Regions from separate parts of the Homo sapiens genome. Here all the other regions are reported to be linked to region 4. Evidence: microRNA targets listed by miRTarBase, many of them from high-throughput screens and not tested one by one. Region 4 holds a microRNA gene; each other region holds the end of a gene's coding sequence.

Evidence for each region. Region 4 holds the annotated microRNA hsa-miR-3666 (CAGUGCAAGUGUAGAUGCCGA, at 3,558-3,578, opposite strand). A microRNA usually pairs through its seed, bases 2 to 8, with sites in the 3' UTR of a target mRNA and lowers its output. Matches are read on the target gene's strand: a 7mer-m8 pairs with bases 2 to 8, a 7mer-A1 pairs with bases 2 to 7 and ends in A, and an 8mer does both.
Region 1: the mRNA of ATP6V0D1 is a reported target of hsa-miR-3666. Seed matches in the 3' UTR shown: 7mer-m8 at 1,040-1,046.
Region 2: miRTarBase lists SLC35E3 as a target of hsa-miR-3666. Seed matches in the 3' UTR shown: 7mer-m8 at 5,876-5,882 and 7mer-m8 at 1,473-1,479.
Region 3: the mRNA of OTUD3 is a reported target of hsa-miR-3666. Seed matches in the 3' UTR shown: 7mer-m8 at 1,534-1,540 and 8mer at 5,714-5,721.

The regions. Positions count from the first base shown.
Region 1 is chr16:67,432,442-67,439,544 of GRCh38, reverse strand. It overlaps ATP6V0D1 (ATPase H+ transporting V0 subunit d1), which reads left to right. Exons shown (of 8, transcript NM_004691.5): 5 at 194-271; 6 at 398-574; 7 at 675-752; 8 at 856-1,526. The coding sequence ends at 1,017. HSD11B2 (hydroxysteroid 11-beta dehydrogenase 2) reads right to left here. Exons shown (of 5, transcript NM_000196.4): 2 at 3,705-3,917; 3 at 3,403-3,588; 4 at 3,159-3,296; 5 at 1,992-2,957. The coding sequence ends at 2,542. Among named protein-coding and RNA genes, the nearest start is that of HSD11B2, 4.9 kb to the right of the region's middle. RefSeq lists an enhancer at 3,558-4,059.
Region 2 is chr12:68,763,979-68,771,098 of GRCh38, reverse strand. SLC35E3 (solute carrier family 35 member E3) reads right to left here. Exons shown (of 5, transcript NM_018656.5): 5 at 1-6,395. The coding sequence ends at 6,209. Among named protein-coding and RNA genes, the nearest start is that of SLC35E3, 21 kb to the right of the region's middle.
Region 3 is chr1:19,906,869-19,913,983 of GRCh38, forward strand. It overlaps OTUD3 (OTU deubiquitinase 3), which reads left to right. Exons shown (of 8, transcript NM_015207.2): 8 at 702-6,077. The coding sequence ends at 878. Among named protein-coding and RNA genes, the nearest start is that of PLA2G2E, 13 kb to the right of the region's middle.
Region 4 is chr7:114,649,831-114,656,950 of GRCh38, reverse strand. It overlaps MIR3666 (microRNA 3666), which reads right to left and starts at 3,606; the gene lies at 3,496-3,606. It overlaps FOXP2 (forkhead box P2), which reads right to left. Exons shown (of 17, transcript NM_014491.4): 9 at 4,661-4,748; 10 at 2,942-3,025. RefSeq lists an enhancer at 633-1,897.

The DNA of each region.
Region 1 (7,103 bases), not on the chromosome of region 4:
AGCTGCCACTTGGCTGATTCACAGAAGTGTTTCATTGGCTTTGCTGTAAGGGCTGCCCCGGCCCATCCATGGGTGTGCTTGTACCCACCTTGAAAGGGGCTAGGGAGGGGAGGAGGGAGCTGTGAGGGCTTGTGCCTAGCAAGCCCTCCAGAGCTTCCTTGCCTGTGCTGAGCAAGCTCCATACTCTCTACAGGCCTACCTGGAGTCCTTCTACAAGTTCTGCACCCTACTGGGCGGGACTACGGCTGATGCCATGTGCCCCATCCTGGAGGTGAGTGCCTGCCCGCCCTCCTGCCTGCTGGTGCCCGCTAGCCCTGGCCTGGGGAGGCTCTGCCAACTGACTGGCTACTGCCTCCTTCTTCCTCCCTCTCTTCTTACCTGTGCACTGGCTCCACAGTTTGAAGCAGACCGCCGCGCCTTCATCATCACCATCAATTCTTTCGGCACAGAGCTGTCCAAAGAGGACCGTGCCAAGCTCTTTCCACACTGTGGGCGGCTCTACCCTGAGGGCCTGGCGCAGCTGGCTCGGGCTGACGACTATGAACAGGTCAAGAACGTGGCCGATTACTACCCGGTGAGTGCCCCGGCTGGCAGGACAGCGGTTGGATGTGTTGTCACCAAGCACCCCCACCCAGAACCCTCATGCTTGTGCTTCCCCCCACCCCCCTGGCCAGGAGTACAAGCTGCTCTTCGAGGGTGCAGGTAGCAACCCTGGAGACAAGACGCTGGAGGACCGATTCTTTGAGCACGAGGTGAGTCTGCAGGGTCTGCTTGTCAGAGGGAGGCCAACCTGGTGGTTTAGACCTGACTCTGTGGCCATGGCCACCTGGACACCACATCTGCCCGTGTCCACAGGTAAAGCTGAACAAGTTGGCCTTCCTGAACCAGTTCCACTTTGGTGTCTTCTATGCCTTCGTGAAGCTCAAGGAGCAGGAGTGTCGCAACATCGTGTGGATCGCTGAATGTATCGCCCAGCGCCACCGCGCCAAAATCGACAACTACATCCCTATCTTCTAGCGTCCTGGCCCAAGGCTCTCAATTGCACTCTTTGTGTGTGTGTGTGTGTGTGTGCGCGTGTGTGTGCGTGTGTGTGTATGTGGTCTGTGACAAGCCTGTGGCTCACCTGCCTGTCCGGGGTGTAGTACGCTGTCCTAGCGGCTGCCCAGTTCTCCTGACCCTCTTAGAGACTGTTCTTAGGCCTGAAAAGGGGCTGGGCACCCCCCCCCACCAAGGATGGACGAAGACCCCCTCCAGAGCAAGGAGGCCCCCTCAGCCCTGTGGTTACAGCCGCTGATGTATCTAAGAAGCATGTCACTTTCATGTTCCTCCCTAACTCCCTGACCTGAGAACCCTGGGGCCTGGGGGCAGTTTGAGCCTCCTCTCCCTTCTGTGGGTCGCTCCCAGAGCCATGGCCCATGGGAAGGACAGAGTGTGTGTGTCCTTGGGGCCTGGGGGGATGTTGCTCCTCAGCTCCCTCCCTCAGCCCTGCCCCTCTGAGACAATAAAACTGCCCTCTCTAAGGCCAACTGTCTGCTGTCTCGTTTAGGCCCTGGTACCTCTCCATGACCCCTAACTTCCCTCGTGACCCCACCTTGCTAAGCAACCCTGCCTAAGCCTCCACCTCCCTCCCTCAGTCAGCAGCCGAGATTCTTCAGGGTTGGGGAGTCCCAGGGAGATAGCCCCTTCTTCTGCTGGAGGCTCAGATGCATACAGGCCTGGGGAGCTAGATGTTGGCCCTGGAGGCCCCCCTGGCCTCCCCAGTTGCTTCAAGCAATTGGGATCAGTGTCATTACCCCCATTTCACTATGAGGAAACCCATGGTCTGAAATGATTTGCCCCAGGTCAGTGGAGGAGGGGGAGGTGTGAACCAGAGTCTACCAGGGGAATCCCAGCCTCCACGCTGAGCCCCAGGAGTTGCCACCCTGTCACACGGCCACACTGTGTCACTCAGCCAGCCAGTCAGTGACCCCCTCCAAACAGCACCTGCCGCATTTTAGAAGAAATAAAAATTTGTCTTTATTTAAAATGTGGCAATTGGGAAGTACAGTACATGCTTCCCTGTGGCTTGGGGGTGTGTAGTTGGGGCCCTAATTCTTGAGCCAGTCAAGAGACACTTGGGATTTAGCCCTCAATTGCAGCACTGAGGCACTGGTGCCGAGAAACAATCCTGAGGGGGTCCCCAACCCACCTAGTCACTCCTTAGTTTGCAGAGGCACTATCTGCAGAGTCCTGTGAAAGGCTGCAGTGAAGTCTTGCATGAGACTCCCCATCCAGCGGAGTTCTCCAAGCTGCAGGGTAGAGCGTTGTGCCAGGAGGGTGTTTGGGCTCATGAAACAGTGGAGAGGCGCAGAGGCTCACTGGGAAACCTTGGCCTCACCGGGCCTGGATTGGGCATCGGCAGTGGGCATGAAGTGGGGGTGGGATTCTTTAGGCCAGGGTCCAGGACACTTGGGGGATCGTAATGCTGGGGGTTTTCGGGGAGGAACCAAGGGCTCACGGAGCCTCCTGTGCTGCAGTGGCTGGGCCATAGGTGCACATGGCTCACCGAGCCACTGCTGGGGAAGGGCCGGGGCTCAGGTTTGGGTCCTGGGCTGCGTCCTGTGGTGGGGTAGTGCCAGGCTGGCCAGGCTGCAGTGCTCGAGGCAGACAGTGACTGATGAAGAAGGCCTGCAGGAAGCGGCGCCGCAGGCCTTCAGGCAGGTAGTAGTGGATGAAGTACATGAGCCCCAGGCCCTGGCCGGGGTAATAGCGGCGGCGGGGCCGAGCTGCCAGCAGCGCATCTGTGATGGCATCTACAACTGGGGTGAGGTCGGACATGGCCAGGCGTAGCGAGTGCAGGAACTGCCCATGCAAGTGCTCGATGTAGTCCTTGCCGTAGGCCTGCAGCAGCTCTTGAGGCAGGTTGGCCAGCAGCAATTGCTTGCGCTTTTCCCACTGACCCACGTTTCTCACTGACTCTGGGGAAGGAGTGGCAAGGTCAGAGTGGGATCAGCTAGGGGAGCCAAAGCCAATTAGGACTGTTTAACCCGCGCCAGGTCTGCAGCCAAAACTACACCCCCAACCAAAACCATGACCATTCATCAAACCTGACCTGCCCCCATAAGACCATTCCCAGCCCCATTCCCCACCCCCACCCCACCCCCAGCCCTGATTCCCACCTGTCTTGAAGCAGCCAGGCTGGATGATGCTGACCTTGACCCCCCAGGGAAGGAGTTCACAGCTGAATGTGTCCATGAGTAGCGCCACGGCCGCTTTGGAGGTTCCATAGGCCCCCAAGCACGGATATGGCATGTCCCCTGCGGATGGATTGGGAGTGGGGCAGCTCAGCTTTGGCAAGGGGCTCCCTAAGCCCTCCCCCACCCCAGGGGGCTCCTTTTTGCTCCAGTGGGGGGGGGCACTCACCCGCTGGGCTCCCCACAGTCACGATGCGGCCCCTTGAGCTGCGCAGCAGGGGCAGGAGGCCCTTGGTCAGCTCGAGCGCGCCAAAGAAATTCACCTCCATGCAGCTACGGAAAGTGGCCACTGGAGACAGCTCCGCATCAGCAACTACTTCATTGTGGCCTGCGTTGTTGACGAGGCCCCACAGGCCTGGGGTCACAGAGCAGAGGAGGGAAGCCTTAGGTCAGCCCAGCAGCAAACTTCCAGTCCCCGTGTCCTTCCCACTCCCCTGCCACGCCCTTGCCTGGTGGACACTTGCCACTGACCGGTGCTGGTGGTGTGGGCCTTGGTGAACTCTAGCACGCGGCTAATGTCTCCTGGTTTGGTCAGGTCCATCTGCAGCAGCCTTAGGCGAGGGGAGCAGCAGGTACGCAGCTCGATGGCACCGGGGCTGTTCAACTCCAATACGGTGGCCAGCACCGTGAAGCCCATGGAGTCCAGTTTCTTGGCCGTCTCCTTGCCAAAACCAGAGTCACAGCCTGGCCAGGCCAGGGCAGTCAGTGAACTTCCACTGTGGCCCAGCCTAGCCTGAGACAACCCCAGAATCACCAGGGTCTGGATGGGATCCAGGCCCCTGCAAACCAAGCCACCAGCAGTCAACAACCCTAACTCCTTCCCTAGGCCCATCCCTGGCAGGCTGTGTCCCTCTAGCTGAGCCCTGGGCAGTAACTCTGTGACAGCTGTCATCTGCCTGACTCCCCGTGGCTACCCCACTAATGTGGCTTACAGAAGAGGAAACTAAGGCCTAGTAATGCTAAGTTGCTTCCCAAATTCACACAGGTCAGGTCTGGGACAGTCCCAGGCCCCAGTGTGGTTCTGCTTTCTTGATTTCAGGCCACAGCTCACAGGCACAGGCACAGTATTAGTAGGAGCCTCCCTTTCTCTTTTTTTTTTTTTTTTTTTTGAGACAGGGTCTCGCTCTGTTGCCCAGGCTGGAGTGCAGTGGCATGATCTTGGCTCACTGCAACCTCCCCTCCTGGGCCCAAGCATTCCTTCCTCCTCGGTCTCCTGAGTAGCTGGGACTACAGGCCTGTGTCACCACGCCTGGCTGGTTTTTTCTTTTTTTTTTTTTTTGTTTGAGACGGAGTCTCACTCTGTTGCCCAGGCTGGAGTGCAGTGGCGTGATCTCAGCTCAGTGCAACCTCTGCCTCCCGGGTTCAAGCGATTCTCCTGCCTCAGCCTCCTGAGTAGCTGAGACTACAGGTGCGCATCACCACAGGCCTGGCTAAGTTTTGTATTTTTAGTAGAGACGGGGTTTCACCATGTTGGTCAGGCTGGTCTCTAACTCTTGACCTCGTGATCTGCCTGCCTCGGCCTCCCAAAGTTCTGGGATTACAGGCGTGAGCCACTGCGCCCAGTCTACCTGGCTGGTTTTTAAATTTTTTTGGAGAGATGGGAGTCTCACTATGTTGCCCAAGCTGGTTTTGAACTCCTGGGCTCAAGTGATCCTCCCACCTTGGCCTCTCAAAGTGCTGGGATTGAAGATACAAGCCACCACATCCGGCTTCTCTTCCTTTCTGACTGCCCAGGCCTCTCCTTCCTTAATCTGGACTCTGAAGCAGCCCCTTCTGTAGTCCTGTCCCTTCCTGCCCTCTTGAAGCCCTTCTCTACCTAAGCAGCCAAAGGGATCTTTCCAAAAATGACAATATCCCTCTGTGCTACAAACCTTCCCAGGGCTGCCACAGTACTCAGAATGAAGCCCAAGCTCCCTGGCTCAGGCCCTGTACAACATGAGCCCCACCTCCCTTCCCAGCCTCAACACCCTCTACTATTTTTTCAGGCTGGAGGCAAGCTGGAGGCCCATCCCCACTTCACCCAGACCCTTGGAATTCCAATCAGTGGCAACAGGGGTGTTTTCTGAGCCCCAGACGACTTGCCTCCAGGACAGGGACCATGATAGATGAAGAAGAGAACAGACCTACATTTGAATCCTTTCCCACACCCACCAAGTGTGACCGAGGTCAGTTACCACTCTTGGAGGCTTAATTTCTGTCTTTGGTATGCGAAGAGAAGAACCACCAGGCAGAGCCAGTGTAGGGGTCCATAGTACTGATAAGCCCCTGCCTCCTTGATTGTTCCCATGCTGATCCTGGCTCCATGGGCAGCCAGTGAGGGAAGGGGAAAGGCCAGTGAGCAGGGAGGCTTTCTGTTCTGCTCCTGCTCCCACCCCTGGCCCTCAACCCCGCCCCCCAACCCCCATCTTCTGGAACAGAAGCTGCAAAGCAGCTCTGTTTCCCTACTCCTGGACCGCTCAGTACGGTCTCCCCATCTCAGCTCCACTCCCTCTACTGAAAACAGCACTGGGCAGGGGTCTTCGAGCTCCTGCTGAGGAGGGGTACTTCCCAGGCAAGTCTGCCTTGGAGAGGGAGGCAAGCATATGTGTGTGTGTGTGTGTGTGTGTGTGTGTGTGTGTGTGTGTAGACACACACATGCATATGTGCACTTGTCCGGGTCCCCCTCAGAGCAGACAGGTCCTCCCAAGGGAAACAGACCTCCCAGTTCTGACCTGAGCTGACCACAGGCCTCAGCTCTGTGGTCCCAACAGTCACCCACATCTTGCACACCCTCTTGCTCACGTGCACACCCTCAGATACCTGTACACACTTCCAACCTGGCTGGATGTTCTCACAACGGGCTCAATCCCTACCACCCATTGGCACACACATGTGCACATGTGTGCACACAGGCACCTGATCCTCAGCCCAAACCCTGATCCCACAGCTGAGCTCCAGGAGTAGCCTTGGCAAGTGATTCTCTGGGCATTCTTAGGAGGGAGAGGGGGAGTAGCAGCTCTGCCAGGCCCAAAACACAGTGTTCTTGGCAGGTGGGGCTGAACCTGGTTACCTACTTGTCTTCCAGCCGGGTGTTGAGAGACAACCCCCAAGTGTTCGGGCCCTGGGAAACTTGGAGTCTTACTGATGCTTGTACAGGGCAGGTTGGGTGGTCCTCTCTCCCCCAACCCCAGCTTTGCAACCAGAGATTGGAGGAGCCCAAGTTAGAGAAAGCATCCTTCCTCTCACCTCTCTCTCAGGCTCAAGGCCAGAAGCAACAGCAGCAGCACAAAGGCCTGAGGTGAGACCTCAGGAAAGACTACCCAGCTAGGCCACTAGTACCTGCAGATGGCCTGGGTCCTGTTGAGGTGGCTCACAAATAAAGCAGGAAGGGATCTGCCCTGTCCCCAGAGGCAGAGCCCACAACCTGGCCCCTACTTCATACCCGGGGTGTCTGTTGATTTTCCTTCCTCAAACCTCTGAAACTGGGGTCTGCTGAGGCTTCACACTGCGCCTGGAACCTGGGTCTCTCCTGTCCAGCCCGAATGCTTCCCCATCTCTACCATCTTTGCTGGAGTGCAAGGCCCTTGTGCCTCCTTCCCCCCTACTCTGCCTCAGCAGTCTGGCTTCTTACCTGATTCATGGCCCCTCCCAAGGAAACCACCTCATATCCCCTTCTCCCCACCCCCACACCCAGACTGGCTGTCCCCTACAGAGACCGTGTGTACTCCTGCCTTAAGCCTTTGTCCCACATCCTTTCTCTGATCCGAGATCCCTTTCATACTCCACTTATCTCCACTCATGCTCCAAGGCCCCACTCAAGGATTTCCTCCTCCGGAAAATTCTCCCAGCCCCATCTGATCACACAGGGCCCCTACTAGACCGAGGTCTCTG
Region 2 (7,120 bases), not on the chromosome of region 4:
TTTCACCATGTTGGTCAGGCTGGTCTCAAACTCCTGATCTGAAGTGATCTGACTGCCTCAGCTTCCCAAAGTGCTGGGATTACAAGCCTGAGCCACCATGCCTGGCCAACATCTTTAATTGGATATCTCAGTATCAAGAAGGCCCATAATATTCCTCTGCCTCATCCCTCTCCTCAGTCCTCTTCTTGTGTTTCCTAGTTCAGAGAATGGCACCATTCTCTATCAAGCTGCGCAAATCAGACATGTGTGATTTTTTGTTGTTGTTGAGACAGGGACTCACTCTGTCACCCAGGCTAGAGTGCAGTGGCGTGATCATGGCGCACTGAAGCCTCAAACTCCTGGGCTCAGGAGATCCTCCCGCCTCAGCCTCCTGAGTAGCTGGGACCACAGGCCCACACCACCATGCCCAGCTAATTTTGTATTCTTTGTAGAGATGGGGTTTCATCATGTTTGCCCAGGCTGGTCTCGAACTCCTGGACTCAAGCAATCCACCCACCTCAGCCTCCCAAAGTGCTGGGATTACAGGCATGAGCCACTGTGCCCAGCTGAAGTGTGATCCTTAACTTCACCCCTTCTCATGCCCTCCATTTCCAATCCATCTCCAGTCCAGTTGACTCCAGCTACTCAATTATTTCCACTTATCTCATTCCACTACCTTTGAAGCTACCACCATCTCTAACTACAGTCATCTCCCAACTAACTGGTCTCCTGGCATCTCTCTGGTTCTCCTCCACTAATTTCAAAAAAAGAAATTTACTGTGACAGTGCTCACAACACTCCCCCTTGCTCTTACTAAAGATGCTTACCATAGCCTCCAGGTATTGTATGGCCTGAGGTCTATCTACATTTCCAGGTGCAGGACACACCATGTCTCCCCACTCCCAAATTTAGTCTCCAGACTCCATCCTTTTTACAGTTCTTTAAAAGCATCACAATTCCTCCAACCACTAGGCATTTGTATGTGCTATTCCCTCTTTCCAGAATGCAATACCCTCCCTCTGCCTAGCTAGCTAACTTCTATGTATCTATGACTGCAGCTCAAACTTTCCTCATGGACTCCCTCCACAAGTGCCAAGCCTGGGCCAGATTCTTTTGTTATGTGCTCACAGAACGATGTTCCCTTTAGCATTCATTGAGTTTGCTGTTTAATTATTCTTGTCTTGTTTTTGTTTAATTAGTCCTATCTCTAATACTAGACAAATGTTCCTTAAGATCACAGGAAATATAGGACTGTCTCTACATAAAAACTGTTTTATATCCATAATGCCTAGGACAGTACCTGGCACACAGTATATGCTCAATAAATTTTTGTTGAATGAATGCAATTATCATTATATTCCTGATATTAGCAGGTATAATCCAGTTTAAGTTTGGGAACAGAAAGACAAAACGGACCACATCTAATAAATCCGGTCTCCTTTCTTTTATTATTTATTTATTTGAGACAGTTTTGCTCTTGTTGCCCAGGCTGCAGTGCAATGGCATGATCTTGGCTCACTGAAACCTCCGCCTCCCAAGTTCAAGGGATTCTCCAGCCTCAGCCTCCCAAGTAGCTGGGATTACAGGCATCCACCACCACGCCCAGCTAATTTTTTTGTATTTTTAGTAGAGATGGGGTTTCACCATGTTGGCCAGGCTGGTCTCGAACTCCTGACCTCAGGTGATCCACCCACCTCAGCCTCCCAAAGTGTTGGGATTACAGGCGTGAGCCACCGTGCCCGGCCAAGGTCTCCTTTCTTTTAATCAAACTCTCACCTTTGGCCATTCTGCAGTCATTCACCCGACAGTATTTACTGACGGAGTGAATACAGAGTGCTTGATTAATGTTGCTGCTTTGTTATTATTATTATTATTATTGAGATGGAGTCTTGCTCTGTTGCCCAGGCTGGAGTGCAGTGGCGTGATCTCGGCTCACTGCAACCTCCGCCTCCCGGGTTCAAGCCATTCTCCTGCCTCAGCCTCCCAAGTAGCTGGGACTACAGGCATGCAACACCACACCTGGCTAATTTTTGTATTTTTAGTAGAGACAAGGTTTCACCATATTGGCCAGGCTGGTCTTGAACTCCTGACCTCAGGTGATCTGCCCACCTCAGCTTCCCAAAGTGCTGGGATTACAGGCGTGAGCCACCATACCCAACCTAATGTTTCTGCTTTGAAATACAATTTCAAAAAGTCATTAATAGGTTGAAAACAGCAAGATTTTAAAAGTATTTTAAAAAGTGAAACAGAAGAATGCTTACTTCATTTCACAGAGATAGATTTCTCCTTTATGTTATTTCTAAAAGGAGATGGAATTTTGTTTCATTCATTTCTGCTTATTTGGACAGGCCAAATATGAACAGCTGAACACGTCAGCGTTACCATGCATATGTTACACAGATGCCATCCTTCTTCCATCAGCTCTCATATGCAATACAGAAGTAAAAAGAGGTTCTCTTTATTTTTAAAAGGTAAAAATTGAAATTCAGTCACTTAACACAGAATAAACAATAATTACAATTACACTGGTAACAAAGGACAGCAAGCATGTTTTCTTTGAAAGCACTGTATCTGGTTTGTCTCCGTGCTTGGTCCTAGTATCTGGCATATTTTCCCCAGAGTTTTCTTTTCAGTGGGATGATTATCTTCGGGGCAAAAAAGTTTATCAGACTCAAGTTTTAGCAGTACTTATTTTATTCATTTATATACATGTAACCCCATCCTGTCTTACTCCAATCTTCTTACTGCCTTCCTACTGACACATATATTATATAACACCCTCCCCAAGTTCTATTTACGGTTAAAAATTTCTTTTTTTTTTTCTTTTTTTGAGACAGAGTTTCACTCTCGTCACCCAGGCTGGTGTGCAATGGCGCAGTCTCGGCTCACTGCAACCTCCGACTCCCTGGTTCAAGTGATTCTCCTGTCTCAGCCTCCCGAGTAGCTGGAATTACAGGCGCCCGCCACCATGCCCAGCTAATTTTTGTATTTTTAGTAGAGACAGTGTTTCGCCATGTTGGCCAGGCTGGTCTCAAACTCCTGACCTCAGGTGATCCACCCGCCTTGGCCTCTCAAAGTGCTGGGATTATAGGCGTAAGCCACTGCGCCCAGCCTACAGTTACGAATTTCTAAATGGCACAAATAAACTCAGCTGTTCTCAGTGCAGACGTCAAATCCTCACTGTGCTGAAACATTTTCCTCAGCTTTTGGGAAATAATTACAATTTAAACATACACAGAGAATGTTTCTTAGACAAACATAATACCCGAGGCTTATCTGGTAAAAACTAATTGCTCTGTCCTTAGCACAAAAAATATATATCTTTGTAAAATGAGAAGAACCAAAGAATATTTAAAACAAAGAAGGAAGCCACACGTACTAATTACACAAGAGACTGACTGACAAACTGGAATTCTCCAAAACAGATTTTCAGCGAGGCTTCTCATTTCAGAGTCCAGGAAAAAAAAATCCTAAAAACCCCAAAGGTATATTATATGTGTGTATATATATTTTTATTGTGTTAAAAAACACAAAACATAAAATTTACTGTCTTATCAAAAGGTATATTTTGTCGCTCTTCCCTTTTTTTTTTTTTTTTTTTCCCGAGACAGAGTCCAGTCTGTCGCCCAGGCTGAAGTGCAGTGGCATGATCTCGGCTCACTGCAACCTGCATCTTCTGGGCTCAAGCAATCCTCCCACCTCAGCCTCCTGAGTAGATGGAGCTACAGGCACGTGCCACTAGGCCCGGCTAATTTTTGTATTTTTTGCAGACAGGGTTTTGCCATGTTGCCCGGGCTGGTCTTTGTTCTCCTAAGAGTTGTTTTCTCCATGAAAGTTGATAAATAACATTTAGAAAATGAATTATTACAAGAGTAATGATATGTCTCAATTTATTATATGAAATTATCAACAACTGCTTTTAATATTCAGATGTCAAGAAGATGAAAAGCAGAAATACATTTTGCAAACATGTAGCACTCCATAAATGGAAATCATGTATTTCCTCTAATATCCCAATTTTTCTATATTGGGATCTTATATGGCTGTTTCTATATGGCTATTTTGTCCCAACTTGCTGTACAAGAATTTTCCCCAGCCACCTTAGAAAGGTTGGATGTAGTTCACTCCAAGTTTGCAGTTCACTCCAAGTGTTTCAGTACCACAGAAAGCTCCATGGAAGCCTCAAATGTACGGGCTAGGCAATAGAAGCAGGGAGGTAGGATTAAGAAATTACTGGCCAGGTGTGGTGGCTCAGGCCTGTAATCCCAGCACTTCGAGAGGCTGAGGCAGACAGATGGCTTGAGCTCAAGAGTTTGAGATCAGCCTGAGCAACATGGCAAAACTCTGTCTCTACAAAAAATATAAAAATCAGCCAGGTATGTTGGTGTGCACCTGTAGTCCCAGCTACTGGGGAGGTTGAGGCAGGAGGATTGCTTGAGCCCAGGAGGCTGAGGCTGCAGTGAGCCATGATTGTGCCACTGCATTCCAGCCTGGTCGACTGTAAGACAAAAAATAAGAAAATAAAAAATTTACCAATATAAAATGCTCAAACAGCTAACAAACATGTTCAATTCCATTTATAGTCTTTTCTTTGAGCCATTTAAACATAGGGCTATTTTTTTTTTTTTTTTTTGAGATGGAGTTTCACTCTTGTTGCCCAGGCTGGAGAGCAATGGCATGATCTCGGCTCACCACAACCTCTGCCTCCTGGGTTCAAGCGATTCTCCTGCCTCAGCCTCCCGAGCAGCTGGGATTACAGGCATGTGCCACCATGCCTGGCTAATTTTGTATTTTTAGTAGAGACGGGATTCCTCCATGTTGGTCAGACTGGTCTTGAACTCCCAACCTCAGGTGATCTGCCTGCCTCAACCTTCCAAAGTGCTGGGATTACAGGTGTGAGCCACTGAGATTGGCTGCCGTTTTGTTTTTTAACTCCATATAGTTTCTATAGTTCACTGAAAACTCAAAGAGATGACCTATAAATGTATGAATAATGTATGATTTCTTACATCAATTTTCTACTAGAAAAAAATCATACTTTTAGAATTGGATTTTGTCTTACAGTCATCTTTATTATACTTTATAAATGAGATTTCATTTATATAAATCAGGAAGCTAAACTAAAATAGAAACACTAGATTTAAATTCTGATTTGAATACTCTGATCAAAATAACAAATCTCACACTGGGAAACCATCTATCAGCAAGCAGAGAGCTACTGTGTGTCCTTCCTTAGAAGAGTTTGAACACCGAGAACCCACAGCATATTTGCAGTACAGTAACAGCAATTCCTTTGTCATTATCACAGAACTTTAATTTTCATATACTTTGCTGGGACCAACCAAACCATCCCATATATATAACCATATCCATATATATATATATATATATCCCACATATATATGGGATGGTATATATATACACATGTATATGTATGTGTGTGTGTATATATGTGTATATATGTATACACACACACACACACACATATATATATATATACACACACACACATATATATATGGAGAGAGAGAGAGAGACAGTGTCTTGCTCTGTCGCCCAGGCTGGAGTGCAGTGGTACGATCTTGGCTCATTGCAACCTCCGCCTCCCAGGCTCAAGCGATTCTCATGTCTCAGTCTCCCAAGTAGCTGGGATTACAGGTGTGCACCACCACACCAGGCTAACCATTCCATACATTTTATACAATCATTTTTAAAAAGAAGCATGAACCATTTCGGTTTTAGAGAATTAAGTTTTTTTAAAAAAGAGACTCTTAAAAAAAAGTCATTATATGAATAAAATCTGCTTTGTGTTAATTCCGACAAATCATTCCATCATTGAGTCTGTCACCAATTTTTTTTTTTTGAAATGGAGTTTCGCTCTTGTTGCCCAGGCTGGAGTGCAATGGTACGATCTCGGCTCACTGCAACCGCCGCCTCCCGGGTTCAAGTGATTCTCCTGCCTCAGCCTCCCGAGTAGCTGGGATTACAGGCATGCGCCACCACGCCTGGCTAATTTTGTATTATTAGTTGAGACAGGGTTTCTCCATGTTGGTCAGGCTGGTCTCGAACTCCTGACCTCAAGTGATCCGCTGGCCTTGGCCTCCCAAAGTGCTGGGATTACAGGCGTGAGCCACCGTGCCTGGCCCAATTTTTTTTTTTTAATAACTTGCACACTTAACAATATTTTTTATCTTCTTGGGACAACATTCTTTTCTCCACAAAAACCCAATTAAGGACGTTGTGCCAGTTTACTCCTACTTCCTTCCTGTTCACTGAGCTTAAAGTGGGTATAGGCGAGAATGCCAAATAATGTACATAAAATGCCAAGGGCCTGATTAATGGACAGTGGATCCTTAAATAAAACATATCCTCCGAATAAAGTAATGCAGAACTTGAAGTGTCCGAACATGTTATAGCTGAGGTTTTTGGATAAGGATAAAAAGGAATAACAAGATAGATGTTAATATTTACACACACACTCGCACTGCATAAAACAACCCAAAAGCAGCCCATCAGATGTAAAGAACAATGGGACCAGGCGTGGTGGATCATGCCTGTAATCCCAGCACTTTGGGAAGCTGAGGTGGTGGATCACTTGAGGCTGGGAATTTGAGACCAGCCTGGCCATCATGGTGAAACCTTGTCTCTACAAAAAATACAAAAATTAGCTGGGCGTGGTGGCACATGCCTTCAATCCCAGCTACTTGGGAGCCTGAGGCATGAGAATCACTTAAACCCAGGAGGTGGAGGTTGCAGTGAGCCAAGAATGCACAACTGCACTCTAGTCCAGGCGACAGAACAAGACTGTCTAAAAAAAGAGAATAATGGGAACTTCTTAGTTTCTTCAGGTAGGTTTTAGCGATTGATTCATCAGAGACACAAGACTGCCTCAACCATTCCTACTGACCTCCAAAAAAGAAAAGGGATACAATATAAAAGGAAAGACCTTCAAACAAGGTCCAGGGAAGGTATTTTGTACAGCAATTTATAATTATGTTTTACAGTGGTGTTTCCTTGGGAAATGAAGTGAGATATGTAAGGTACCAAAGAGCTAACTTGAGTTAAGGAGGGAAAAGAGGGAGGGGGAGAGGGAGTAATACTGAGCACCAACTATACACCAAACATCATGCTGGGCGATTTA
Region 3 (7,115 bases), not on the chromosome of region 4:
CACCTAACATTACTGTACATGTGGGCTCTTCCCATGTTTATCCATGTTTTTTATAAATGCCATGATCTGCAATGAACACCTTTGTGTATAAATCTTTGGTTTTTGCATTATTTTCTTGAATAAAGTCCCAGAAGAGGAATGAACAGGTTAAAGGTCATGGATACATGAATCTTTTAAAGGCTTTTGGTAAATTGTCACGTGCTTCCCAGAAAGGTACATCTCCCTCCCTGCCCTTCACTCCCACAAGTAGTATGTGACATCTTCCATTTTACTGAATTTGGAATCATTTTAAAGATTTTCACCAAGAAGTTCTGAGCTCAAAATGCCACAGTGTAAAAAGCCACAGCAGAGGCAGAGATGCAATAAGCTTCTGAGGATTTTGTCAGAATTACCTGGGGCATTAAATTATGTGGGGAAAAATGTTCTCTGACACGTTTGTTTGTTACCAACTCTTGCTGGATGAGGGCTGGTTTCTTTAAGAGAAGAATGGAATTGATTTTGTTTGCTAGTTCAGCAAGGAAATATAAATTTAAATGCAAATTTGAGCAGCAGTGGACAGTAAATCATCTTTGGCGTCTTAGATTGGTTTTCCCTGTTCCTGCTGAAAAGCAATCTGTGCCCTTTGCCACCATCTCCCTTCTAGCAGGTGGCAGCTTGAGTCCCCCGTGCTTCCTACTCACCACCATGGCCTTCTCTCTCAGGTCACAAACAAACAGAGGCGAGAACAGCAGTGGATGGAGAAGAAGAAGCGGCAGGAGGAGAGGCACCGCCACAAAGCCCTGGAGAGCAGAGGTAGCCACAGGGACAATAACAGAAGCGAAGCAGAGGCGAACACGCAGGTCACCTTGGTGAAGACCTTCGCCGCTCTCAACATCTGACTCTTTGGCCTCTTGGGAGTTGTAAGAAGCGGCTGGAAAAGGATTGCTGTGTGCTAGACTTTCCAGTGAGGCCGTCCTTTTATAAAACGCAACACAACCAACGAAGCCCACACATGAGCTCACACACTGAGTTAGTTTCGTTCAAGCTGCCTCTTTTTTTGTTCGAAGTTTTATTAGTGATATGTTGGTGTTTTATGAAAATGCAGTGAGGCCATTCATATTCTGTAATACAAAATTAAAATACTGAGTTTTAGGGGCAGATAGTTAGGTCAGGAAAAACCTTTTAAGTGGTGGCTTTATTTGCCCTGAAAATCAGACTTCAGTGACCCTAGGATCTTTCCTTAACATTTGGGGTGAGTTTTGCTGTAATTGTTCATGAGTAGTTTAGAATAATTGTTAGAAATTCAGAATGACAAGTTTCCTTAGTTTCTCTTTCATTCTCAAACAGATATATAGGGTAGCTTATAAATGATCTCCAACTCAGGAATATGCTTTGATTTACTTCTAATCCAAGTTACTCAGAAAATAATTCAGGAATTGTTTTCCCAAAGTTACGTGAGGGTTGTGGCCTGCAGTCAGGATGGAAATTAACCGCATTTCTCTCCTTCCTGATTCTGATGTTATTTCAGATGGGATGCAGGTGCTGTTAGTTCATTTGCACTCAAGCCATATGATAAATGCAGCTGACTGTTAATTAGGCCTGGCCTTGTTGGGAAGTTGATAGTGGTGTTGGGTTTTTGGTATTTGTTTCCTGACAGTGGGGAGATGGCATGTTACTGCTTGTGATACAGTTCTGGAATTCTGATAGTGTGTAGAGCAGGGTCTATAGTTGTAACAGGAGACGAACTCCTGGGGTTTTGCCTAAGAGGAGTCTAAAGAATTATGTTTTTATAGGAGAAGCCTGGAAGAATAAGGTTTTTCATGTTCGCATTTTAAATAACGATTTTCTTCCCTTCTGTTGTAGACTTAGATGCCTTCAGAGAGATACGTGGTAACTTGACCTTATAGGTCGCTAAACTTAGTATTGTGGAAATTAAATCTTATAAAATGCTACATTTATTTCTTTTTATTTAAGCCCTGTTTGGCATTTCAAAGTTGGGAAAACTCCAGCATCTGCTGGAAGTTGTTGGACCAGCAGGGTTGGTTGACTTAGGTTGGACCAGCAGAGAAGAGAACATACTTTGGTTGAGGCCTTCGAATCACTCTTCAGTTCTGAAATAGACAGACTTGAGCAGTGGAGAGACGTCTTTCCTAAAACTGAGTTAGGTGGATGTGAACTTAAGAACTATAACGTATGAGGCAGCCCATCTTGGATCATCTTTGTCTTTTGGGACCTAATACTTGGGCAAATAATTGATGCTGAGTTGAAAGGTAAATTATTAGTTATCTTCCCCACCCCTCGCATTTCAGAATTATAAAAATTCGGAGGCAAATTGAAAACTAAAATGTTTGGTAGGCCCTGGAGTCGCCAGATTGTCTTTATCACCAGGCCTTTGGCTTTCTTCAGTTTCACTGGTATCTTTTGGTTTTGTTTTTGACTTTGGTGGCTTTTTGTAGTTGGAGCATCAGTAGTCTCTTGGAATTGCTCCTAGGACATTGTGGTTTAGGTTTCTTCCTGGGTACAGTACATTGTAAAATTTAGCAGATTAAAAAAAGTACACAGCATTTTTTTTCTGTGCACGTCGCAGAGTCCTGAGCTTGAGGCTGTGTTACTCTACTCATTCCAAACGAATGAAAGATCTCTGTTGCCTTACTCTAAGGAAGTGGGATCGAGTGCGTTAGGATCTATGGTTGTCTTGGTTTTCAACTCTGGGCAGATTCCTGACTGGCTGAGTGTTTCTGAATGAAGATGTTTTCCTGTCTGTTTTGTACTGCTTGAGTGCAGAGGCCAGATCCTCTCAGAAAGATAAGATTGTATGCCAGAAATTCAGATTAGCAGTCAGCTTAAGAGAGACTTATTGTCAGAAGTAGTAGAATTGCTTTATTTACTTGGTTAATGAAGGTGGCCTTGGGCCCTATTGGGTTTTAGAAGTTTTAGAAGCTGCTAAAAAGTTATTAAAGAATATTGGGAACATTTATTTTTTAAATTACCTAATTCTGGTAATAGGCTTCAGCATTTCTGGAGTATAATAATGGTGGTTTAAAAAACTAATCAAACGGCTTTAGTAATTTTACTACTGGTTTCACAGCTTTTCAGTTACAGTTGGTCTGTTTAGTGTGTTAATTATTAGGAATCGGGTACATGCATCCAACTTCAGTGATACCTTCTAGCTAATGGTTTCAATTTAGACTTCACTGCCTCAGTCTCACTGGGTACATGAGAAGGTTGGAATCAACATGCTTAGTTGCCTCAGTGGGCACTTGAAAATTCCTTCACTGGCAGCCCGAGTGGAGGCCCAGTATGTCTAGTCCTGGGATGACTGTTGTCAGCAGCTGTTACTCTAGTACAGGTGCTCCTGTGAACTCTTTATTAGGAACTGAATGTGTCTTAACCTCTGTGTTACATCTTGGCTGGCAGAGATTTATGTTACATGAGATTGTCTTGGTAGCTTGTAGTGTGGTCAGGAGAAAGGGGATGGAGCAGTGGTGCATAGCTGCTTACTGCTCTTATAAACGGTATATAAAGGTTTTACGGATTTTGAAAATATTTTTTTTTAGAGGTCAAAATAAATACCATTTTAGTGGCAACAGCTTTGAACTAGAGAGGTAGATGTATTAAAGCAGCATAGAACCATAACTTCTAGATAATGTAGTTGCCACTAGGAGATATTAGAAAGTTAGAATGTATGTGTGTATTTAGTTTTTCAATAATAATGAACATACACTTTCAGGAGCAAAGTATGGTTGAGAAATTGTGGCAGAAAGAATTTTAAATGTTAGTCGAAGTTGTCTGTAGTTTCTTTATTAAGCTCTGAAAACACTTCCAATGCCAGTTTGATTCTGAGGGCTTGGGAAGTGGGATCTCCCTTGTGGAGCAGCTGGAGCTGGCTGGGAGGGAGCCTCTCCATGGGTAATTTATTATGCCTGCCCTGCTTCCCCCAGGGAGCTGCTTCAGTGTGAAATGATGTGATTGTCGGGGGTGGGGTGGGAGGAGGGCCACCTTCAGTCGGGGAGTTGCTCACATATTACACAGGTAGCATCAGGTGGACTTCAGCGCTGAACTGTACTAGTAGTGAGTCCCTGTAGTCAATGTGCAATTTCTCTAATTCTGAGAAACTCTGTAGACTCTGCCTGGGTTTTACTGGGTCAGCATAGAATGCTATCAGTTTACCTCTGTGAAATATTCAGTCAGTTGAAGGAAACTTGGATTCCTAGTCAGAGGTGACTAAAAGTTACCCTGACCAAAAGGATCTCTGCGGGGGGAAGAGAATGGAGCTTCCTGATTTTAATGTGTTGCGTCAGTGGCCCTCTTCGACTCCCGTTTTGGGTAGATGCGTAGCTCTTCACTTTCTTACCTCAAGGCTCTGTCTAGCCATGTTAAATCTTTAGACTCAGTCTGATGCCGTTTTTCTGTTTTGCCATTCTCATTATTCACAGCTTTCAGAACAAGTGTTGCTAAAACTCCGGGGCCTTTGACAGTTGTTCTGAGGTGATTTAATAATGGACTTTTTATAAGTTATGTTTTCCTGGCTCTAAAGTAAATTTTTTTTTTTTTTTTTTTGAGACAGAGTCTTGCTTTGTTGCCCAGGCTGGAGTGTGGTGGGGCAATCTCGGCTCACTGCAACCTCCACCTCCCGGGTTCAAGCGATTCTCCTGCCTCAGCCTCCTGAGTAGCTGGGATTACAGGTGTGTGCCACCATGCTTGGCTAATTTTTGTATTTTTAGTAGAGACGGGGTTTCACCATGTTAGCCAGGCTGGTCTCAAACTCCTGACCTTGTGATCTGCCCGCCTCAGCCTCCCAAAGTGCTAGGATTACGGGTGTGAGCAACCCTGCCCGGCCAGTAAATTGTATTTTTTTAATGACATCATTGATTTGAAGATCTAGATGGCATAAATTACGACGTCTGCCATCGCATATTAGAAAGGGGACAGTCATATTTGTAACGTGGAGAGAACACGGAGCACCAGTCACCACGTGCACTTAGGATGCAGAGCTTACCGCACACCGCTGATGGGGACCTCCGGAAAGAGCGGTGCCTTGTGGTTGGCCTGGAAGTTCTCTCCCAAGGTGAAATTCCTTTAAAACCTCAGGCTCTGACCTATGTCTTTGAAGCAGCTGCTTTGTAGAGTCCCTCTCTTTACTGTCCTCGTTAGGACTGTTTTGTGGTTCCATGAAAATGTTTAGCATCCTTGCAGAATTACTTGAGAAGGGGCTGGTACCAGTGTAAAGAATCTATTTCTGTAAAACTACGAACTTTTGCATAGGGAATTTATTCTAAGCAGGTCATAGCCGTGATCCAGAGCTGCTGCTGCTCACTGCCAGTCCTTGCGGCTGGCGGCGATTGCCGGACAGACTCTCTGTGGCCTGGCTCTCATCCTTGGCGTGTCAGCCTGCGGCAGGCTGCCAGCCATCCATGACAATCATGTGAGCTCAGCCACAGACCTCAGCTGGCGGTTTGATCCCTGGCAGGTCCCTCGAGCAGTACTGGTAAGAGGCTTCACACATTTTCCCACTCTTACAGTTCATTTTTCATAGTAGGAAGGGCCCTTGGCCTCCCCAGTGCCTCTTCCAGAGCCTCCACCAGCACTAAGCTCAGAGGAAAGAAGAAAAGGGCCAGGAGTCAGACGTCACACCCGGGGGCTCCCCTTTCCCATGTAGAAGTGTTGGCATGCGTCAGTCTCCTTTACAGAGGGGTGGATGTATCCGTGGAGGAGGGGCCTTCTCTCTTTCTAATTGCACTATACTTGTTCTAGCTTCAGTCTGGAGATACTTAAGACCTCCATGGGGTCGTGATCCATAGACTTAGCAAGTCTTGCCTTATCTATGGAGCTCGATGGTGAGAATTGTGACCATTGTCTGATGTCCATAGTTCCTTCCCCCTAGATTGTTTCTTTCCACGGATTGTGTTCATCTGAACCATTTTATTTTTTATTTACCAAAGTACTGTACTTGGCTATTTGCAGTGTTTTCAAAACCAAATGTTTCTTTTTTTGTGTTTTTAATCTTCGATACTTGGTGCAATAGAAGCTGCAAAGATGTGCCACTTTATCTATGAAATGGAGTTTTGTATACCAATAAATTCTAGTTTAAAAACAAAGTTTTAAGTTGTTTTTATCAGTATCTGACCACCGTTTGAGTGAATGCAAGGAGGCTGAGTGTGCTGGGAAATGTCCTTTTTGGAGACCTTTGTGTGGAAGCTTTGCGTGTTTGCGTGTGCTGGATTGAGTATTCTAGGTGTATAATAGTACTTTGGGATCTGACTAAGCTTAGAACAGCTGATTTTTGCTTTAGTGCAGCTAAATGCAGCCACCAAACACAATGGCAGGGTCATTCTTAAGGACTACACACTTAAGATTTCTGCCTGATATCTGAGAGCATCTCTTGATAAGTTTGAAACTGTTTAAATATGTAGCAGTTGTCTGTCAGCGGCCACTTTGGGCTCCTCTAGAACTCTCAAGATTGTTTGACCCCATTCAAGGAGGAGGCTCCCTGCCAAGGCACAGACAGTACCATCTGGGGGCACAACTCACCTAGAAGGGTCCACAGGAAACCAGAGCGAAGGGAGTCCTTCATTGCGTCCAGCAGGGGCCCCATCCACACAAGGGCTCTGGCTCGGCAGACCTCACCATGTCATGATTTTGACCTTGAGACTCCCATTCTCCCATTCTTCATTTTGTATTCAACAAGCAGCCTTCTGAATTGGCTCCCTGTTGCCTTGACACAAAAAAGGACTAGATGGTTTTCTGGATGAAAGTCAAGAATATTCTAGCTTCTGCAAGCAGATTCTCCCACAATCTCTCAAGTGATCTTCTCTGTGTGATTCTTCTTCAGTCCACAACTGAGAGACCCATCATCTCTGGATAGACACACACTGTCTGGTTCCTGAGCCTGTGAGGCCCAGATTCCAGACCCCATTTAACCTGAGATTCTTCCAGGAAATCTGCTATGGTCCAAAGTGATGTCCCAATCCAGGTGCTGCCCGCACACTGGAAAACTTCCATGGCCTCCTTAATCCCATTCCAGGGATTCAGCTGGGGCCAGGTGGCTGCTGCTAGGGATTAGAGGGGCTTCCTGTTTGGGCAGCGTTGGACCAGGTGACCTGTAAGATCCTGTGTGGGAGATAGGATGAGTCTTT
Region 4 (7,120 bases):
CTTTTGTTTATAATTTAGTAACACCTGTCTTTTTAAATCCCAAATACACTTCTTAAGATAAACCTTTTTTTAATGGGGAGAAAATGATGTGTACAGCATTGATTGATCTTTCTTTGTGGATTTGTTTTACACATTTAGTCAGTAGAGAGATTTGTTAGGGAAACAAAAATTAACATATGCCAGCTAATTGTTCTTCTTTCTTGGGCAGCAGCCAGAAGAAGCACATTAGCAGTCTAATAATAACGACTGGCACCCTGAAGGCATCCCCAAGTGCATCTGTTCCCAATAAACCACAAACTGTTATTCTGTTCATACTCTAAGCCAGCAGACTGGGTAGGGAATTCTTTGTTACGTACATAAATGAAAGCTGAGATAATGCTCCTAAATGCTGCATTTAATACATTTACAAAGCCACTGGTGTAAGCTTCTCTGGGATGTACAAGAGCACCTCTGCATAGTTTGAGAAACGCAGAAACATCCATATGCATCTGTATGTGACTTTGCAAATATTCTAAAATATCAACATCAGAACATATACATAACAATGTTATATTTAGAAAATATCAGCATTACATACTTGTATGTTAAAAATATGAAAAGAAAAGAAAAGTATTTCCCCATACATAAAAAAAAAAAACTCAGCTGGATGGTTACATATTCACTTTTAGAATTGCAAACCAGAACAAAATGGCACATTCAGAACCCAGAAAATACCAAATTGCAAATCAATGAAATATCTATCCTGATGAATATGTGACAGGACTCTGTACATTTTACCAACACATTAAAAGTTATCAAAACAGGAGAAATACATCTTTTTCAATGCAAACCACTCATGTTTACAATGTTACGGTAACTTATTCTGCTATCCTGTAATAATAAGCATACCATGTTTGTAGGCGTACAATCACAAACTGATAAAATAGAATTTATTATTAACTAAAGGGAAGCATGTAAAAGCTAGGATGAGCACTTAGCCACCTCGACTCATCTGAATATAGTCAAGGTTGGGTGAAACTCATTATTCAGGACTCGCAGCCTTGATAACTTTGATTTTCATCCATCCATAGCATGGCCAAAAGGTACCATTTAATGAAGTACCATTCAGAGAGTAAATGGGGTCATATAATAGACAGTGCGGTTGCACCTTGTGTTCATGTACTGATAGCTGTTAAGGGTGCAGTGATGAACCAACAGAGCTCATTTCTCCTTGGTAATAAATTCATGCTATTAATATTTATCAAATGTGTGGGCCGTCTCAACTGAGCCACTGCACATGAGACCATAAATCTCTACTATCATATCAATTTTGAAGCTTCTTTTGTACAGTGTATAAATTTTAGGGTTTTTTTGAGGGTTGTGAGTATTGACCACTCTTCTTTCAAACCGATCTGAGGCCAATAGTGCAGTTCCTCACTTCAGATATCGCTAGTTCCAAAGGGAACTTTAAACTGTGGTTTCATTTTAAATCGCTCATCTAAGATTCTGTATTAATTGCCCACCATCAAACGCAATTAGCAATTCTTTCATGTGTGGTTTATGTAATGTAATACTTCAATTACATTATTCATTCAGGTTCTGTTTTGGATTATAGGCTGAAAATTCTTTATTAGTGTAGATGTAACCATGCTGCTGGAGTTTTAAAAAATTTACTGATTGAATAATTAATTGGAAAAGAACAAGCTGCAGATTCCTGATGGATTTATGAGACAATTATTCTGTCTTGTGATTATCTACATTATACTATAGAAGCAATGAGGGAAAAAATCTTATTGAAAAGATAGTCATAAATACATGATCAAAAATATCCTCAAAAGTTTATTTTTTAATTAAAAACTCAGACATTTTAGAGTTTAAAAAGTAGTATGTCAGATTCAAAAAGATACATGTCTTTTTTCTTCCTATAAAAATGTTTTTACAGTACTCTACCTTTAAATACAGTACAAAGGAAAAGCAGAAATAGCTTAGCAGAGTTTAAATATAATCTCTACCAAAAAAGTAAATTTTGAATGATATTAATTGATAAGAAATATCGAGACATTACGAGAAAATTAGACAATATAGTCGTCTTCTGTCTCCTCCCCAACTACAAAGCCAAATGTTCGTTTTTTACCTAAAGAAATAGAGGGAGAGGCAAGACTGGCAATCATTAATCATCAGGCTATACAGGGGCCTTATTAAAAAGTATCCCACAAACTTTCATTAAACTAGAGTTACCCAGTTGATTACTCTAAGTTTCTGTGCAAACATCAGCTGAATGAGATAAAGTATATTCTTTTCAACAGTCTGTGTATCTGACTACATTATTAGGTTGAGCTTAAATCTCATATATTTTTGAGGGAAACTAGTCTTAATTTTCTATAATCACCCACTTCTTTTTGTGATAAGCTCTCTAAATTAACATTATGTATAATGTACAATAAAACATATCAATATGTGAAATACATCTTAACTGAAATAACCAAAGAAATAGGACAAAATTGGCTATAAAAATACCATGACCTTTATGACAAAATATTTGATAAAAATCTATTTATATGTATCTTATGATTGATCTGCCTTCTTCAGCACACCACATACATTTCTATTTGTGATTTGTACGTTACTACTTTTCAGGTTGCTCAAAGAGGGTTTCCTTTTAATATCTGTAAACCTATCACAGAAAGAAATTCTCTCTGGCTTCAGCCCCAAGGCAGTGATTTGTGCACTGATAGGTGTACTTTGTTTAGTGTCACCCATGGTGTAGATTGGATAGATTTTGTAAAAGATAGCATTACTTTAAAAGAAACATACAATTTGACAAGCGATTACATTTTACTTTCATTTTATTGCCGTATTTTTCATCACACTCATTGTTTTCTAACTGTCACTAAATTGTTCATTTTCTTAGTCTGTTACATTGGTAGAGCTATTTACTGTTTATAAAGCAATATGCACTTACAGGTTTGGGAGATGGTTTGGGCTCTGAGGGTCGCATGTGCAAGTGGGTCATCATTGCTTGAAGACGTTCGCGTTCTTTAGAAAGCTGTTAAGAAAGAGTGAGATCAGAAGCGTTTTAGAAATGACTGATACAGCTATTTTATTGCAGTGATACATCTTATCATTGAGCTTGCCTCAGAATAATGATTCCTGCATGTAAAAGTCTGCGTCAGGAGGAACTTATCTGGGAGGAAATGCAACTTTAGCTATGGAGGGGGAAAAACTTTTATAGCTTTTCTTATGTTAAAAGGTCAGAGAAAACAAATAACACTTCATCTTTTTGTCAATAAGAGAATTGAGGTCACAGTTGCCTCGACAGTAACAAGTTACTGAAACCATAAATTAGAAGGCCCATGGTGTCTCTTTAAAGTCCTGTGGACACTGTTAGCAATGGACTAGTGCCAACAGCTGTGAAGGGGTGAAGGGTTCTCAAAGCAAAGTGCCTGCCAGGATTGTCTACACACTTCATGCATTCCCACTGAGGTCCAGTTAGTGCCCCCTGCAATCTGCCATCATCAATCTAATTCAATAGAGTGACAGAGACCAGGCAGTGTGAAACGCTGAACTCTGCCACGGAGTCGGCATCTACACTTGCACTGGGTCTCATTACAACTGACGGACCTTACTTTTCCATCAGTCAGACACAGCAGAAGGAAAAAAAAAAAATAGGCGTAATTGGTCACACCGAAGACTGTATCATCAGCTGAACTCTTATGTTTTAGTCTACCTTTTATAAATGGTAAACAGGTTTATAAAAAGCTTTTTAAACTTTAACAGTGATGGTGCTTTTTGTGTTCTTGATTATTTTACAAGTCAAAACAAAATATTTTTAGTAAGCTCTCTGAAAAAAGCAATGACACGAATTTGAAACAAGATGTAATAAAATATGAAGAAAAATCGTATCTTTAAATGAAACAAAGTATTAGTTTCATTGAGAAAAGATCATCTTTAAGATGAAATGTTAGAGAAAGCCTTAAAGGCTTAGTAAAACATAACAAGAGTCAGACTTTGGGTGACATAATTGCTTTCTGATTAGTTCTATGGATTCTATTTACTTCTGGCCAAATTCTGTTTCAACATTAATAGAATTTTTTTTAACTTAAAACAGTCGCATTTGATACAACATGTGTGTATTATCATCTGTGATATAAATTATCTGCCTTTAATCTAGCTAAAGAAAAGTATAAAGATTTTTTTGCAAGTTCTTTAATTAAAATTACACTAGAAAAAGAAAAGAAAAGGTTATCTTTCAGGGTGTTAGTTATATTACAGGCATGATATTGTAAAGACTGGTCATTTGCCACAATATAAAATCTCATGGAAAAAAATCAAGGTTAGCTCATGTAAAAACTCTCTCTGTAATAAAATCATATCTAATTGGGAGTTTGGTCTAACCTGCATTGGGAAAAACTTAGATCTGACTACTTTGGGATATTCAAATTCATATGATGTGGTCTAAAAGTTATAAAAATATAAGTGATAAGTACATTAAACTACAGCAATCCTTCCTGGGTTATCAATAATTGCCACTGTTTAAAACAATCTAAAATATCATGTATCTCCATTAGTATTGAATGGCTAAGACAGTAAAATGCAGGCTGAAAGACCCAGAATCTGCTCAGTACTCAATGTAACACACCAGAAATCTAAGAAGAGTCCATTAAGTGAGCATTTAACAAACCTGTATTTCTAACTGTTGCACCACCTGCATTTGCACTCGACACTGAGCAGTGCTTCGGTCATCCAATGCGTGTTCATTGTTAAGGTGCCTAAACAAACAGAAGACACAAAACAGAATGTAAAGTGATGTCGATCTTAGTGGCATAGGCTACACTTAAAAAGCACTACACTGAAGTCAGATGTTTCTGTGCACTGGGAAAACAGAAAGCCTTGAAACCATACAGATAAAAGTTAAAGCTGCTTACGTGTTGTGTGAAAATTATTTATGTAATGTAAAGAGACTCTTCAAATGGCAGAAAATGTCACTGTCTCTAAGCTTACCTGTTATTACAAAAAATATTTCCCCAGACCATTTACAGAGTTATAGTAGAAGTCATATTATTTATGCCATTTTTTTAAAAAGAACAGCTTACAAATCTATGAACCAAAAGCAATTCTGAAGAGAACAAAGGCAATTTTCTATTTCATTGTTAGAACAGTTTGTTGTTTCTATGATGTATTTTAGTGAGCAATGTTTTATTTCATTGGGATGTGGTATGAATTAGGTAAAGATGGCAAATTATCTCCCGTGGAAAATCAATATTTATGAAGAATGATGATTTGCTGTTAGTAATAAAGAACTTCATTGAAGATTTTGATCATTAGAATAACAAGATTGACATTTCATGTCCAGTGTTCTAACTAGGAGACATTTGTCCTAATCTTATTTTTAAAATGGTGAAAAATAAATCATTCCAAATGATCTCACTCTAACCTTGAATATGCATTAGTCTACCATTATTATTTCTATACGATGTTTAAAGAGATCTCTTTAATGAGTGGTATGTTAATACACCAAAAGTAATTTAGTAAAGCAGCATCTCCAATGAACATGAAAACATTTAATAATATATACTCTGTAATTTGTAATACATAATGTCTTTGATGCTTCCCAAAATTAAAGAAAGTAATCTTCAAGTAATTCAATATCCTTTAGTGTATCTATTTCACCAATGGGCAAAGTAAGGCAACAATTTCAGAGATGTTCTCATCATTGCATATAAGTGAAATGGCATATTGAAAAGAAATTCACAAAATTAAATAAGAATTTATATATTTACCCAAGTGGGCTCAAGTATCATTTAGAATGATATAATAGTCTAAAAAGTTTATAATAGCCCTGGGTATACTGAATTCAACAAATATATTTTTGTATCCATTCAAATTATTTACTTTTATTTCTTGAAGATCACAGTGAGGCAGAAAAAATATAAGACACATACATGTAAAACATATGAAGAGTAATTAAAGTCGTGTTGCTGATAAAAACTAATTTTATTATAAACAAAAGGTTTATTTGTTTATATACCTAGGTTCAACAATCAGAAACCTTTGTTTTGCCTATACCTTGATAAATTAAACCAGTTTGTTTTAATACTTCCTTATTGATCATAACAACAAAACCTCCATGTATCTTGTCACAATGTCAGTCTTGGTTGAAGAGAAACTGTGGACTAAAATAGCAAGGTGGATAAGGTCAAGCTGAAGGAGTGTGGCTGGAGTGCAGGGGAGGCACTTCCACTATACCTGTCTGCTCTCTAAGCTCAGCTCAGGTTTGTTCTGCTGTGAACCTGTGAGGAGGATTAACATTCACTCATGCTCTCTGGGAAGGAGGTATGGAATGTGAGAGTAAGCCAGAGGTTAGTTAACAGAAAGTGTCACCAATTCCTAAATAACAAGACTACATTTAAAAATTGTTTCCCAGGGTTTTTTCCCCCAAAATTTAAATGAACAGTAAGACAATTTTCTACCAGCATAATACAGTTGTGTGTTGTATTCTTAAGGCTTCATATTGCTGTGTTTCCGTAAGATTTTTTTTTTTTTCACCATGAACTCTTGGGGAACACAAACATATTTATTCCATATAAGAAAAAATGTTGCATATTTTCAAAAATGCTTCAGTTATACACTGAGATTAGGGTGTAAATGCAGGAAGCAAGATAAGTAGAACATACAGGTCTGCAATAAAAGGCATAGTCACTATAACATTTTCTTGTGAAATCACTTTTTAAAATGATTTTCTACACTTGTTTACTGCTTAGTGATAATCATGATCTTATATTTAAAGAACTAAAAAAAGTACAAAATGTTTGCTTTATATACTTGGGTCTTAGAGCCCTATTCAATTTATCTATGCAGCTTTTATTAGAATAGAGACTGTAGACTACAATAATAGTCAATGAGGTTTTGTCTTGATTGAATTTTTCAGTGGAACACAAAAGAACCTTGCCATTAAAATAGTCCTTTATTCTCCTGTATGAAGGCGAAAGGTTTTTAAAGTGTTGTGATGTTCAGTAATGAGCCTCTATCTAAATTATCATTGGTGACAAACTCACAAAGCACTTTTCGAGGACACATAGTTATGAAATGCCAGAGCTGCCACTTTCTTTCCTGTAATTATAGGCTAGCTTGCAGCCCTTCA